Regions from separate parts of the Homo sapiens genome. Here region 2 is linked to region 1. Evidence: fine-mapped expression QTL. Tissue or cell type: whole blood. Region 1 holds a variant in brackets; the other region holds the start of a gene. All regions are shown on one strand. Distances are from middle to middle.

Region 1 (8,200 bases):
GCTTCCCAAAGTGCTGGGATTACAGGCGTGAGCCATCACACCTGGCTCTTGTGTGTATTCTTAAACCTGGATTGTTGGTCCAGAATATGAAATTTATTATTCAGAGGTAGGAAAGACTCAGAGGAGATGGGACTTGATTTAGAACTTGAAAGAAATAATTTGGATTAGCAGAGAGAAAAAGAGTATTCCAGGTTGCAGAAAAGCAAGCAAAAAAGACAGATACAGGAATAATCTCAAGCTCTGTGAGTGTAGCGATTGTGTCATTTTTATTTCCCCCCTTGTATGTGGAGCGGGGCTTAAGTATTGCAGGTGCTCTGTAAATGTATATTGAACTGAATTAAATGGAAACAAGTGGTTCTTTTAGCATCAGTTTCTAGCATCTATGGGAATCCTGTTTGTGTGGACAGGAAATCACAAAGAATGATAAATCAACTCTAAAATCCTCAAAAGTAACTAACCTCCCTTGCCCTTTTTCTCATCTTCTTGTATATAGTACAGGACAGCAAAATACAGCTTCCAATTATACAGCTGCGTAAAGTGTGGGCTGAAGCAGTGCACTATGTGTCTGGACTAAAAGAAGACTATAGCAGGCTCTTTCAGGGACAAAGGGCAGCAATGTAAGTGGATTCTGTTGTTTATAAGCACAATGCAATGTGCATCATATACTCAAGAATTAATCTTGCCGGTTTTCACTAATCAATATTGCATGTAATAGTAACATACTGGGCCAATTTGAAGTGTAATGTTCTGATAAACTTGTAGAATTCTTACTAATGGACTGAGACCATTCTATTGTAATGGCTTGAGGGTAATAATTCCCATACGGTCCTAGTATAAAAAGATTGTTTATCACAAAATATTATAGGCAGGAAGTCTTTAGAGATCAGATTCTAGAGCTCAGTTATTTCTCATAGATTGATAATAGAAACTTAGGCTTTGGCCTTGTGGCAGTTTATGTTTTTACATTATTGTTCAATGTTTCTGAATGCTGATAATATCTTTTTTCTTTTTCTTTTTTTTCTTGCTGTGGTTTAGGTTAAGTCTTCTTAGATATAATGCTAACTTAACAAAAATGAAGAACACTTTGATCTCAGCATCACAACAACTGAAAGCTAAATTGGAGTTTTTTCACAAAAGCATTCAGCTTGACTTGGAGAGATACAGCGAGCAGATGACGTATGGGATATGTAAGTGTCTGTGTAATGTATTTGAAAGGAGCATCTGGTTTCTTGAAGCCATCTGTTATTTTGCCTTCTTAACTCAGCCAGTTGTTTTACTTACCTTCACATTAGAACAAGAGACAGGACAACTTAAATTAACATAAACCATGTTTGTTTTGAATGTTACCTCTTTTTTTAAATTTGCTTAGTTGAGCAATTTAGCTTCACAATTGGGCTAAAATTATTTAGCTCTAAAAAAATACAGGTGCGATTTAATAATCTTGAATTTCAAACCTGATTTTAAAATAAATACAAAATCTGGACTTCTTAGCCAGTGCTGTGGACTGAATGTATCCCCCCCAAAATACATATGTTGAAATTCTGACCCTGAAGGTGAAGGTGTTGGTAGGTGGAGCCTTTGGGAAGTGATTAGGTCATGAGAGTAGAGCCTTCCTGTTTGGGATTAATGCTCTTACAAAAGAGACCTGAATGAGATCCCTCATCCCTTCTGCATGTGAGGACAGAGCAAGAAGATGGTCATCTAGGAACCAGAAAGCAGGCCCTCAAATCTGCCTTGTTCTTGGACTTCCCAGCCTCCAGAACTATAAGAAATAAATTTCTGTTGTTTTTATGGCACTTAGTCTATGGTATTTTGTTATAGTAGTCCAAATGGACTAAGACAACCAGGGGAGTCTTAAACTGCTTACTTTTCTGTAAATAATGACACAAATATTCTAAGGCTATGTTTTTTTCAAACCATCTACTGTGGAGTCCTACTATTTTTTAGTGTACACAGTCTCCAAATTTTCCATATTTGACTCCAAGCTTATCTCCTTCAGATGTACTAAGGAAGTGTAAAAAAACAGAGTTAAAATATGAGTAAATTGAAGGAGTCATACTACCAGCATTTCTGTTTTCTTTTATAAAACAAATCCTTTTTAGGAAACAAATACTTGTTTCCTAAAAACATATACTTGTCCTGAGCAAACTCTGTGTATCTCAGAGTAAACAATCAATAGTGTCCAGTTGGGTGAATGAATTTACTCTCCAGAACTGGTTTTATTAATATTATTGATATTTTATTTCTATTTATATATTATTGATATTTTATTTCTATTTGTATATTATTGACATTCTGGTGAGTGATAAAACATTATAATTATTTCATTAAAATATCTTAGACTTGTCAAAGGCTTATTATACAATTGTTAAAGAAAAATGAGGTAGATCTATATGTGCTTTTATTAAAAGATCACCTAAGTCTTTAGTTGACAGTTTTAAATTGTGGGAAAAAATAAAGAGTATACAGATGTTTTCACTTGTGAGGGAGCAGGCTATGTGTCTATGTAACAGATAATCATAGTAAGGTCCCTTGAGGTGGATGGTAGAGGGGTAGAAGAGAGAGTCTTTTCTGTTTATATCCTTTTATAGTATTTAATTTTTAAAAATCATATTCAAGTATTAAATTTCTTTTCTGGCCAGGTGGTGACTCACGCCTGTAATCCCAACACTTTGGGAGGCCAAAGCAGGTGGATCCCTTGAGCTCAGGAATTCAAGACTAACCTGGGCAACATGGGGTAGAACGCCATCTCTACAAAAAATGTAAAAATTAGCCGGGCATGGTGGTGCACACCTCAGCTATTCAGGAGGCTAAGGTGGGAGGATCGCTTGAGCCCTGGAGATAGAGGTTGCGGTGAGCTGAGATCATGCCACTGCACTCCAGCCTGGGTGACAGAGTGAGACTCTACCTCAAAAAAAAATTTTTTTTGTTGTTTTTTCCTTTATCCACCCATCTGCACACTGGTATAAATATATATATTTTTAAGAAAAAAGTCATCTGTATTCATTTCCTAAGGGTTCCATAACAAAATCCCATAAACTGAGTGGCTTAAGCAATGGAAACTTACTGTCTCACAGCCCTGGAGGCTAAAAGTCCAAAATTGAGGTGTTGGCAGGGCCATGTTTTCTCTGAAATCTGTAGAGAAGAATCTTTCCTTGTTTCTCTCTAGCTTCTTATGGTCTGCTAGCCATCATTGGCATTCCTTGGCTTACAGCTGCAGCACCTCAATCTGTCTCCATTGTCACAGAGCATTCTCCCCTGTGTATCTGTATCCTGTGTCTCTTCTAAGTACACTGGTCGTACTGGACTAAGGGCCCAGACCATTCCAGTATGAGTATTAATTTATCTGATTACTTCTGTAATGACCTTATTTCCAAATAGGTCACATTCTGAGGTATTAGGGGTTAGGAATTCCACATATCTTTTGGGGGACCACAATTCAACTCATAACACATCTTTGATGTTGATATGGCAAGGAGGCAGGCAGCCAGTAATTAAAGATATGGCTATTTCTGAGATAACCAATTTAGACTTTTCTTTTAGCTTCAGAAAAAATGCTAAAAGCATGGAAAGAAATGGAAGAAAAGGCCATCCACTATGCTGAGGTAAAATCATTGACGTCATTCTGTATACTTATTAATTCTTGATGTCTCCATTAGAAACTATCTTTGGTTTTGATATATAAAGAGCATTTTTCATGTCATTCCTGAAATTCAGACAAAATTCTAGTAGATGCTTTGTATATAAAGAGGGATGTATCATAGTGATTAAAAACAAGGGCTTTGGGAAAATTACCTAGTGCCTCACTGAGCTTCAGTTTCCTTTATTTATTTATTTTTTGAAACAGGGTCTCACTCTGTTGCCCAGGTTGGAGTGTAGTGGCATGATCAAAGCTCACTGCAGCCTCGACTTCCCAGGCTCAAGCAGTCCTCCCATCTTAGCCTCCTGTGTAGCTGGGACAAGAGGTGCACCACCATGCCTGGCTAACTTTTACATTTTTTGTAGAGACGGGGTCTCACTATGTTGTCCAGGCTTGTATCAAACTCCTGGGCTTAAGCAATCCTCCCACCTCAGCCTCCCATAGAGCTGGGATTATAGGCATGAGCCACCACATCCAGCTAGTTTCCATATTATAGGGACAATTTCTTTTCTAGTAGGGTTATGAAGATTAAATGGGAGTCAGTAATGGTAGTTGTCACTATTATTTTTGTGACTGGTTTAGATAGGATGGCTGCACATCCTGGTTTACCTGGGACTGTCCCAGTTTATACTTAATGTCTTGCCATAATTATCAGTAGTAGTCCCTTTCACTCTCAAAATTATGCCGGTTTGGACAATAAATTATATGGTGTCCCTAGGTATAGCTCATTCTCTAGGTGGCAGATTTTTTCCCCTTATCCTGTACATTTGTCCACGGTCCTAAGTTATTACACTCCTTAATGTCAGTACTTACCCTGAGGATGTGGGTGGGGATACCCATGGTGTCCTGGGGTGGGAAATCCAAGTTCTTTATCTTTTTGTGTCCCTATTCAAGGTAGTGGGGACCAGGGGGCAGTCAAAATCATAGAGCCAAGATACAAGTAATACCAATGGTTTTGGTGGTCCTTTTTCTTTCTTGTTAGTTGATACCTGTTGTAGCTTTTTGCTTCTCCGGAGGTAAAAGCAAATACTAGTAGTTTACTGTTGTCAGGAGAGAAAAGAGAGAAGACTAAGACTAAGTATGTTCTTATGTGAAAGATTAAGTGTCAGAATCTGAAGAATAGAAAGGCTTTAACAAAATCAGTGTTTCGTATTATATTATTTAGTTCTCTAATGAAGCAGCAAGTCATTCTGTATCCTTAAGATCTGAATTTTGTTTCCTATGATGTAGTGGTAAGCCTTTCATTTCCTTTGTATTTTCATCATATTTTAGGTTGGTGTCATTGGATACCTGGAGGATCAGATTATGTCTTTGCATGCTGAAATCATGGAGCTACAGAAGAGCCCCTATGGAAGACGTCAGGGAGACTTGATGGAATCTCTGTAAGGATGCACTTGTGTTGTTGGTCTTGAC[A/G]TCTGTAATATTTTGTATTCTTTCTGCTTACATCTGGCAAATTAAACCTCTAGTGGTTCTTTTCTATAGTTTTCCTTTCCCCAAATATATTGGCATTATATTTAAAATGGAAGCTTTTTCTCAGTCACAGGAAACTTCGGAAATAATTCTTTGGGTTGGCCTTTTTTGGTTTTTAATAAAAGCATTTATTTCATAGGAGTGTTAAGAATTTTCCAAGTATAACTAAGTTACAAACTATTTCCCTACTCATTATACCTCTGGTCCAAGGTATTGACTCTTAAATGCCCTAAAACTTGAAATTTTTTCTGAATTAAAGTTCTGGATTAAAAACTTCAGATATTTTCTCGAATTATAGGTCATAATTTTTGTCTTTTTAAGTGTCTGTGGTGCAGAGATGTCCCCATGATAGATCAGAATAGATATGAACTATATTAAACTTTGCATTTTAAGAACTTGTATAGTTCTTATTACTCAATACAATGCTCTGTGAAATACTTGTTGGCAATATGAACTTGCTTTAAAATGGGTTCATTATTCAAATAAAATATTGTTTCAAGTTGTAGATTATTGAAGTCATTAAATTACCTTCACTTATCAGAGCGTGTTTTCTCTTTTATAGGGAACAGCGTGCCATTGATCTATATAAGCAGTTAAAACACAGACCTTCAGGTAAGACACTTCTACCACAGTGCTTGAAGGCATTTTAGGTAACTATCACTAGCCTAACAAATGTGGGGGATCTAATATTTTTAAGTTAAAAATTTTCTTAAAGCTGCAGAATAAATTCCAGTTTTGGTATTGCCATTGAGACATGGTATAATAAGCTTTAAGATTGTGAGAATTTAGGAGATGATAAAGAGAAAGTAACAGAGAACGTGAGGTAGAAAAATTTTAGAAGGGGACGTGAAAAGAAAGAATGGAAGACAGAAAAAAGGAACTCAGAGAGGAAAAAGCAGCAAGAAAATGTTTAGAAAGATGGAAAAAATAAGTGTTGCTTAAGATTAGAGAGGTTGGGCCAGTTGTGGTGGCTCATGCCTGTAATCCCAGCACTTTGGGAGGCCAAGGTGGGTGGATCACCTGAGGTCAGGAGTTCAAAACCAGCTTGGCCAACATGGTGAAACCCCATCTCTACTAAAAATAGAAAAGTTAGCTGGGCATGTTGGCATGTGCCTGTAATCCCAGCTACTTGGGAGGATGAGGCAGGAGAATCGCTTGAACCTGGGAAGAGGAGGTTGCAGTGAGCCAAGATCACACCACTGCACTCCAGCCTGGGTGACAGAGCGAGATTCTGTCTCAAAACAAAACAAAAAAATATTATAGAGGTTGGAAAGAATTTGAGGCAGTGGGTTCAGGTATGGAATGGTTAGAGGGAAGGCCTGTGCTGTTCTAGGCCAAAGCAGATTGCTTTGAAAATAATGCCTTCATCTGCACTGGTCACTGATGACTTGTTTTGTTGGCAAAATAATTCCAGTTGAACATCTGCTAAATACTGAGCAAGGTCTGCTGGAAAGAGTACTGGATGGGGAATCAGAGGCTTGAATTCTAGATTGAGTAATTTACTGACCGTTACCTCAGGCAAATCTGCGTTTCCCATTTCCTTCTTCTGCAAAATGGGGTTGAAACCTAGCTTTCCTACTCAGTGAGTATATTGTGACAGTGTATTTAAGAGGATGTTTGTGAAAATGCTTTGAAAACTATAAACTATTATGTACTTGCAAGATATTATCATTTAGTTAAAAATTTGTTTTGAAGGGTAACAGAAGAAATAAAGTCTGTGCCCTAATGTGCATTATACTTAAATGCATGTTAAAAAAAGATATACTTTTACACTTTAAAATTTGTAGACACATAGCAACACATGCAAATTAATATACATGTGAAATTGTATTTCATATACTATTTTCACATTTAAAAAATAACATTATCTCCTCTTATACTGCTTTTATTTTACTGAAATGTATTCAGTTTAGTCTGACCAGCAGTTCTCAAAATGTGGCATATGGACCTGTGAGAATCCTTGAAACTTTGTCAGAGAGTCTGTGAGGTTAGAACCATTTTCATAATAAGATGTTATTTGCATTTTTCACCATGTTGACATTTTCATTGATGGTGCAACATAAAATGGCTTTCACCTTAGTATGAATCAAGGCACTAGCGCCAAACTATGCTAGTAGCCGTTATATTTTTTACCACCATGCAGTCACAGTTTTTAAAAAATGACAGTTTCACTTACAAATGTCCTTGATAAAGCAGTAAAAATATTATTTTATTTAAATCTCAACGCTTGAGTATGGGTTTTTAATATTTTGTGTGATGAAATGGGAAGTACTCATAAAGTGTTTCTTCTATACAGTGAAGTATGATGGTTGTCTTAAGGAAAACCACTTCAGTAATTGTTTACGTTGCTAGTTGTCTGGCCTCTTTCAGGGAAGATACCATTTTTACTTGGAAGAGCAACTGTCAGGCAAACTATGATTATTCAGATTTGCATACGTGAGATAATTTCTAAGAAATTAAATGAAAATAAAAAGTATAGCACACTTATTACTTTAAGGGAAAAAAGCAGTATTTGTTGTCAATGATAAAATTCCATGTTTCAAGCAAAAAGAATTTTAGAAAACTTGTATTTACCAGCTGGAATGACAGCTTCTCAGTACTTAAAAACTTTTCTGATGAGATTAGTGGTGATATCAGAAAGGTTTGCAAAAATGTAAAACAGTGCAAGTGTTCTCACTCAAATTTTTTTGTTTTAGAAAATATCGTTTTTTGGTTTTTGTTTTTAGAGGTGGGCTCTTGCTATGTTGACCAGGCTGGCCTTGGACTCCCTGGGTTCAAGTGATCCTTCCACTTCAGGCTTCCAAGTATCTCAAGTAGCAGTAACCAGTGAAAGGAGGTGGCTCTCGTAGATATGAGTATACTGTGTAGACACATGTATGTATAGCACTTAGCATGTCTGAGGAAATGCAGTATGACTGGAGTGTAGAGTTTCAGGAGAGAGAAAACCTAAATATAGGAGAGAGAGAAAACGTAAATATAGGTTTTTTTGTTTGTTTTTAATAAAAACATGTTAATGGGCAATAGGTTTGTTATTTTTAAATGAATTAAGACACGAGTATTTTTAAATTTCTGTTTAATTCCTGAAAAACC
Region 2 (8,169 bases), 190 kb after region 1:
AGCCCCAACATTGCATAGGAGAGAAGTTAACTCATTACATACAACAAATGCCTAGGGCACTAGGCTTTAATTCTCTGTGATCTAATCTATCGCATCAGTTGGTTTGTTTCCTTCATAACACTCAACTACACCCCATGATTGTCTGGATTATCATTTGTTTATTTCTTTATTGTCTGTTACCCTACTCTAGAATGTGAGCTCCATGAAGGCAAGGATCTTGTCTGTGTTGGTCAGCCTGAATGCCAAACACCTAGCACAATGCCTGTTACATCACAAATGTACAGTAAGAATTCATTGATAAATGAAAAGTATAAAACCACCTTTGCAAAATTTTAACTGAGGAACTTATGAAGTGAAAGAAAGCAGACCTAACTGACCCCATCTTGCTTCTAACCTTTAAGTTGTCCTCGTTCATTCCTGGGCATAGGCTGAACTAACTTTGGGAAAGAATTCAGTTCATGACTCTGAAACAAAATTGATAATAGCCCTTTGCCAAAAAGACCCCCTTCTTGCCTAGGGACCAGTCTGCCTTTGCAGGACTAACAAATTAGCTACAAGATTAGAAATTACAGTTTAAGGCCGGGAGTGGTGGCTCACACCTGTAATCCCAGAACTTTGGGAGACTGAGGTGGATGGATCACTTGAGGCCAGGAGTTTGAGACCAGCCTGGCCAACAATGTGAAACCTCATCTCTACTAAAAATACAAAAATTAGCTGGACGTGGTGGTGCATGCTTGTAATTTCAGCTACTAGGGAGGCTGAGGCACGAGAATCGCTTCAACTCGGGAGGTGGAGGTTGCAGTGAGCTGAGATTGCACCCCTGCACTCCAGCCTGGGCGGTAGACTAAGACTCCGTCTCAAAAAAAAAAAAAAAAAAAAAAATTACAGTTTAGGGGTCATGCAGCCTCTGACTCCAAGAGCCTGAACCTCCCAAATTGCTCCTGGAATAACATCACTATTTCAAAACCTAAGATCAGTATTTGAGATATTTTGCAGACCCTGCAGTTGATGGATCTGCTGACACCATCCAGACCGGTAATCTGGCTCAACCAGTTCTGCATTGCACCCAGGAGCAGAAAACAGCAAGAAAACCTCATTTTGACCCCCTATGTTTCCATCTCCAACCTGACCAATCAGCACTCCCCACTTCTCAAGACCCCACCAGCCAAATTATCTTTAAAAACTCCACAAGGTCAGGAGATGGAGACAATCCTGGCTAACACGGTGATAGTCCGTTTCTACTACAAAAATACAAAAAAAAAATTAGCCAGGCGTGGTGGCGGGCGCCTGCAGTACCAGCTACTCGGGAGGCTGAGGCAGGAGAATGGCGGGAACCCAGAAGGCGGAGCTTGCAATGAGCCGAGATCACGCCGCTGCACTCAAGCCTGGGAGACGGAGCGAGACTCCGTCTCAAAAAAACAAACAAACAAAAAACTCCGATCCCCAGGCTGGGCGCAGTGGTTCATGCCTGTAATCCCAGTACTTTGGGAGGCCGAGGAGGGTGGATCACCTGAGGTCAGGAGTTCAAGCCCAGCCTGACCAACGTGGCGAAAAAAATAAATAAAACGAAATGCTTGATTTTTCATCTGAATTTCATATGGCATACTTGACTCCAAACAACTTTAGAAAGCTACATCCACAGAAAACAAAATTGTAGGAAACTGAATAATAAGTTATTTTTATTTTGGCTAATAACATTATCCAAAAATAAAGACAATAGATTTGCAATGTTAATTACTTTCTTGAGGAAAGAAAAGTCACTTGTTTTAAAATATTTATTTATTTATTTATTTATTTATTTATTTGAGACGGAGTCTCGCTGTGTCACCACGCTGGAGTGCAGTGGCGCGATCTCAGCTCACTGCAACCTCTACCTCCCGGGTTCAAGCGATTCTCCTGCCTCAGCCTCCCGAGTAGCTGGGACTACAGGCACCCACCACCATGACCAGCTAATTTTTTATTTTTAGTAGAGACAGGGTTTCACCATGTTGACCAGGATGGTCTCGTTCTCTTGACCTCGTGATCCGCCGAAAAGTCACAGTTTTACAGGCAAATGAAGCATTGCTAAGAATTTTAAAGACTCTCCGAACGTTGATATTTTACTACAAAATGTTCTCTTTACAGTGTTAACATGCTTCAAAAAGCAAAGGAAAAAAAAACAGTATGGTGGCTTCTCAAAAAATTAAACACAGAATTACCACATGATCCAGCAATTCTTCTGGATATATACCCAAAAGAATTGAAAGTAGGGACTCAGATATTTGTACACCCATGTTCATTGCAGCATTATTCACCATAGCCTAAAGGTACAAACAACCCAAATGTCCACAGAAAGATGGGATAAACCAAAGATGTTATATACGTACAATTGAGTATTATTCAGCCTTCAAAAGGAAGGATATTCTAACGCATGCTACAACATGGGTGAGCCTTGAAGACATTATGCTAGGTGAAAGAAGCCACTCACAAAAGGACAATATTGTATGATCCCACTTATATGAGGTATCCAGAGTAATCATAGAGACAGAAAGTAGAATGATGGTTACCAGGGGCTGGAGAATGAGGAGTTAGTGTTTAATGGGTACAGTTTCAGTTTGGGAAGATGAAAAAGTTCTGGAGCTGGATGGTGGTGATGGTTGCAGAACAATGTCAATGTACTTAATGCCACTGAACTGTACACTTAAAAAGGATTAAAATGGTAAATTTCATGTGATATATATTTAACCACAAGTTTTTAAAAAGCAAAGGGAAGGAGAAACATATACAGCATGGGATGAGATTTGTGAAATATTTATTTTTGTTGTGCATGCACAGTCATAGACTCGCCGCCTTCTTCAGAATCCTCTAGGTAGATTCCAGAAACGTGAGGCGCAGCAATTCCAGCAACATAGCCAAGCTGTGTAACTTCGTGGTCTTTAAACAAACAACGGGAATACTGCGGGGATTCAGAAACTGAGTCGGAGGAGGAGTTCTGACAGCCCTGCCCAGTTCTTGCTTCTGTCATTTCTTGCTCTCAAATTCTCAAAGATGTCCTGAGAGACTTTCCTCAGAAAAAAATGGGACAGATAGAGGCGAACCCCAGCGAGTATTGTGTGGCATAATAAGGGAAACTGCCTCGGGGTAGCAAAGAGGACAGCATCACACGCAGACAGGAATCGACTTGGACTTCTCTGAATGGAATTTTGACTTTTTTCTAGGTTGGAGGGTGGTGTCGGGAGTGGGGGAACAGCAAGAGTGGAGGAACTTGTCCGCAGCCGGGGCTGCACGTAGGACTGCGTGAGGCCGAGGCCCGACGAGCCGTGTCGGCGCGCTGCGGCGGGGGCGGGCCCCCGTGCCTCAGTTTCCCCGGTGGCCGTTCTGGGAGCGACGCCCCTCTGACGTCGCGAGGCGAGCAGGGCCGGGCCGGCCGCCAGGGGGCGCGAGCGCGGGGCGGGCGCCGGAGAGGTGGGCGCGCGGGCAGCGGAGCTTGGCGCCCCCGGGGCCGCGCGGACCGCGCCGGCAGAGGCGGAAGCCTGAGCGGGAGGCGGGGCGGCGCGCTGACTCACACGGGATCGACCCGCCCGCCGCTTCCAGGGGCGGAGGTGACAGCGGGCTGGGGACTGGCGGCTGCAACTGCCTGCCGCGCCGAGGGACCGCCGGGCGGCGGAAAGCAGGTCAGAGGCCGGGCCAGGCCGGAGCCGGGCGGGGGCCGGGCGGGGAGCGGGGGTCGCGGTCCGGGGCCGCGGGCGGAGGGGACCCGCACCCCGAGAGACGCGCCGCGCCGCGCCGCGCGGCTAGGCCTGTATCGGCCCTTTCCCAGCGGCGGCGCTGTGCTGCGCTCTGTGGGCCAGGAGCCCGCGAGGGACAGTGGGGCGCAGCGGGCCCCCTCGCACTCCTGTAGTCCCCGGGAGTTGGAGGGGTGGTCAGAGCAATGCGAACGTGGGCTTTTCAAGCGGTGTCAAGCCCAGGGCTCTTTCTCTGCACCGCCCTGCCACTCCGGCAATGAGGCGGAATTTTGAGAGCTGGAAAAAGAATTCTGCGTTAGTCCACCCCGCTGATTTTACAGATGTTCGGAGCCTTACGGCATAGGAGGCCGTGATTCTGTGTCAGGGAGACAGGGACAGATGGCTTCCGAAGCAAGGGTTAGACCTGTTCAGCTGGAGATGCAGCTTTGGTCATGGTGGAGTTTTGCAGAAACCCGCGGACACCCGCGTTCCTGCTGCAGGCACAGATGTCCACCGGGCATCTGTGTCTCAAAGGGTGGTGATGCTGTCACTTTAGTAAAGGAATATTGAGGTTACCAAACAGGCCGGGGCCTGATGCAGATGAGGAGTATAGACTTAAATTTTAAGTGCAAAAACAACTTTAAATGCAGTCTCATTATTACTGCCTGTCTCATTTGTACTGTAATGAAGGGTGAATATTTTTGGCACTCACTTATTCTGGAATATGGGTAACTTGCCTTTAGGTCTGTTTTATAGTAATTCTTTTACACAAACATGAAGATCTTGTATTAAAACACTTTCATAACTAATGATGCTGTAGTATGTGGCAGGCGAGTGGTAACGCTAATATTTAGGGTTTGAGCATAGTCTAGCTCTGCTTGTTTACATAGCTGAGTTAAACGGATGAGCAGGACTGATTAATCTGTAGTAGTTTTTGCAAGACTGAAGTACCTGACAGCATTCGGGGATCATTTCTCAGTTGGTGTTCCGTTTATTACTTTCACAGCATGAATACCGACACGGTGATCAGCAAGTTAGTTTATCCTCTACCCATTTTTCTCTAAAATATTGAATTAAAGGATCTCTAAGGTCCTCTTCTGTCTCGAGTTCTCCGATTTTACATGTTAACTTGAAACACGTCACTCATTGTGATAATAAAAATGTTTTAAGAAGAAAAGATTTTTAGAATTCTGCATAATGGGGCATAGCGAATCTTCAAATTCATTATTCTCAGCTCTCTCAGTCACTTTATCAGGGTTGGGCTAAAATAAGTGAAAAGTGACTTTTCAAATTGCAGATACTTACGTGTTAAATTCACTTAAATTCAGAGGCTGCAATGGAGTGATTTCTGGAGGGTGGAGAGTAGCTCAAGTCTGGCTTGGGAACGGGGTTCGTGCAGTGCACTGATAACTTTTGCAATAAGCCAAGAACAGTCTGACTCAGAGAATGTGATAAATTGACTTTTATACAGTGTTCATATTGTGTATTTTTTGGCTGAGATAATAATAATCTTCATAAACGATCTGTTTAAATATGCACCAGTTATTTATTTGTCTTGCAGCCCCAAGGCAGGGCATTTCCCTCAACGTTCCATCAATCTCTTCCTCTTTTCTGGCTCCTGACTTCAGGTGATCCGCCTGCCTCAGCCTCCCAAAATGCTGGGATTACAGGCGTGAGCCACCGAGCCTGGCTTTTGGCTTATTTTCTAGGTTTAGTATTCTGTTGTTTCTAGAGTCAGCTAATGGATTACCTACAACATGGTATTATTACGAGATTATCTCCTGTGAAATTCTCGAATGTGCTTGATCATCTGCCAAAGCATCCTTAGAATTCATTCAGAATACTTCTGGAAAGTTTTGCAACACCAATTCAATTAATATGAAATAGTTTCTTATTATACACACTCTGGAAAACATCTGAATAAGCTAATTTTCAAGATTGGTTAACTTAGTCTTGTTGGTCAGGAGTTAATTATGAGTTATTAGTTTCTTGCCTGGAAAGGCAGAAAGTTCTTAAGTAGCAGCAGTAAAATGAGCTCTTTAATGAAAGAGCCGTTAAACCAAGATGTTAACTTTTAGTTGTGTTCTTTATCCTCCCTGCTATGAAAGGCAGCTGTGGGAGGTGAAATAGAGTAGCTAAAATGTATTATTTCATTTTTAGATTTCTAGATCTTTTCTTCTGACTGAAGGACGTGACCACCAAGAATTGAACCAGCACTTGAGGGCAGGCACATAGGGCATTGTGTGAGGAGTCTGAAGGCATGGCTTTTGGTCCTTACTTGTTTATTCACTGAACACATTCTCACTGAGCACCTGTGTGTGCTGAGAGGGTGGGCACCTGTGTGTGCCGGGAGGAGGAACACCTGTATGTGCTTGTGGGGGGCACCTGTGTGTGCCGGGGTCGTGGTAGCACTTGTGTATGCTGTGGGTGCTGGGAGGGGGAACCAGTTTGAACAAAACAGACTAAGCCCTCGTGGAACAGACACATTCTAATTGGGTGGAAACAGACAAATATGTGAATGAATAGGTCAAAGGATCATAATGCTGTGGAGAACTTTAGAGTCAGGAAAGGGTAAGAGTGTGTGTGTGTGTATGTATATGTGTGGTAGGGGATTTACTTTTTATATAGAGGGGTCAAATAAAGCCTCTACTGAGATAACTTTTTTTTTTTTGGAGACAGAGTCTTGCTCTGTCACCCAGGCTGGAGTGCAGTGGCGTGATCACAGCTCACTGTAGCCTCAACCTCCTGGGCTCAAGTGATCCTCCCATCTCAGCCTCCCGAGTAAGCTGGGACTGCAGGCTTATATCACCACGCTGGGCCAATGTTTGTATTTTTAGTAGACGCGGGGTTTCACTATGTCGCTCAGGCTGGTCTGGAACTCCTGGCCTCAAGCGATCCACCCACCTTGGCCTCCCAAAGTGCTGGGATTACAGGCATGGGCCACCACACCTGGCCTAACTCATGGTGGGAGACTGGAAGGAAATGAGGAAGTGAGCAGGAGGCAGTGGGATGAGCATGTTCCAAACCCTGGTGCAGGAGCATGCTTGGCATGTTAGGGGTGGCAAGGTCATGGTGGCCAGTCAGTGTGGATGTGGGTTGGGGGGAGGTGGCAGCAGATGAGAGGGGGTGGGAGTGGGGAGGACACATCAGTGTAGGTCATTGTAAGGATTTTGGCCTTTACACTGAGTGAGGGGGAAGCCGTTGGAGAGCTTTGAACAGTGAAGTTGATGATGACTTATGTTTTAAAAGGATAACTGGCTGCTGGGTTGAGAATAGACAGGAAGAGGACAAGGGCTGAGTCAGGGAGACCTTTTCAAGCTAGAGCTGTGTGACTCACACCATAATTCTTCCCTGAGTCTTCGTTTCCTCATCTGTAAAATAACTGGGCCCTCTCTAGCTCAAGAATTTTAAGTTTTCAAGTAGTGCAGGGTATTATTTCTACAGGGAGGCAAGAGGATTGCGTGGGAAGAGGTTCTGAAAGTAAATCGCTTCAGATGACCTGAAAACTTGACACCAACCTGCCTGTAGCTGAATCATCCCAAATCAAGAGGTAATCAGGTCTTTTTCAGTCAGATTGTCAGGTCATGAGAACAAAAACACTGTTTCGTAAATATTCTCTGCTCATCCCTTTTGTACTTTGCTGATCCCTGAATTTTCCCTTCCTGATTGAAAAAGGATGAAAAGCTGTTACTCATCAACAGAACTGGCAACCAGAGTAGCTTTTGTTGTTTGGAAAATTGGGAACTTTGGGGAAGGAAACAATTCTGTGTTTATCGTAGGTCATAAGAGTTTTTCTTTTATAACACGCAAGGAATCTAAAAGATTGGTTTTGTTGTAGAATTCCCTTGTCCCATTCATCTCATGTCTCACAGGTGTTCATTCTTAATGCATTGCATGTGCTTCCTTTTGTTTATGTAGGAGCTTGCAAAGTGGGAATGTTTGTTTTATGTGTATGTATCTTGATTTATAATGCTGTAATTCATTTTCCTTTATGTAGTTTGGTTTTTTTTTTTTTTTTTTTTGGAGACTTTTGAGACAAGAGTCTCACTCTGTTGCCCAGGCTGGAGTACAGTGGCGAGATCTCGGCTCACTGCAGCCTCCGCCTCCCGGGTTCAAGCCATTTCCTGCCTCAGCCTCTTGAGTAGCTGGAATTACAGTCATGCGCCACCACGCCCAGCTAATTTTTTTGTATTTTAGTAGAGACGGGGTTTCACCATGTTGGCCAGGCTGGTCTCGAACTCCTGACCTCAGGTGATCCGCCTGCCTTGGCCTCCCAAAGTACTGGGATTACAGGTATGAACCACCATGCCAGGTCTCTGAGTAGTGTTTTTAAGATCCATCCATATTGTTATGTGTCTAATTCTCTGCTTTGGAATGCTGCATTTATACCCCATGCTGTTTGCATCCATTGGTTTTGCTTTATCTGCTCTCTGTGTAGTGAGTGGTTACTCAAGTTGTTCCTACC

What was found. PIP is the estimated chance that this variant, and not a neighbour inherited with it, causes the effect.
Region 2: it holds the start of DNMBP, and the variant in region 1 is fine-mapped to the expression of DNMBP in whole blood (TOPMed, PIP above 0.99).

Annotation. Positions count from the first base shown.
Region 1 is chr10:100,197,493-100,205,692 of GRCh38, reverse strand. CHUK (component of inhibitor of nuclear factor kappa B kinase complex) reads left to right here. Exons shown (of 21, transcript NM_001278.5): 12 at 494-617; 13 at 1,036-1,187; 14 at 3,544-3,605; 15 at 4,913-5,022; 16 at 5,673-5,722. Among named protein-coding and RNA genes, the nearest start is that of ERLIN1, 16 kb to the right of the region's middle. The variant A/G (reference allele first, on the strand shown) is at 5,054.
Region 2 is chr10:100,005,322-100,013,490 of GRCh38, reverse strand. DNMBP (dynamin binding protein) reads left to right here and starts at 3,544. Exons shown (of 17, transcript NM_015221.4): 1 at 3,544-3,653. RefSeq lists a silencer at 3,252-3,771 and enhancers at 6,428-6,487, 7,038-7,117.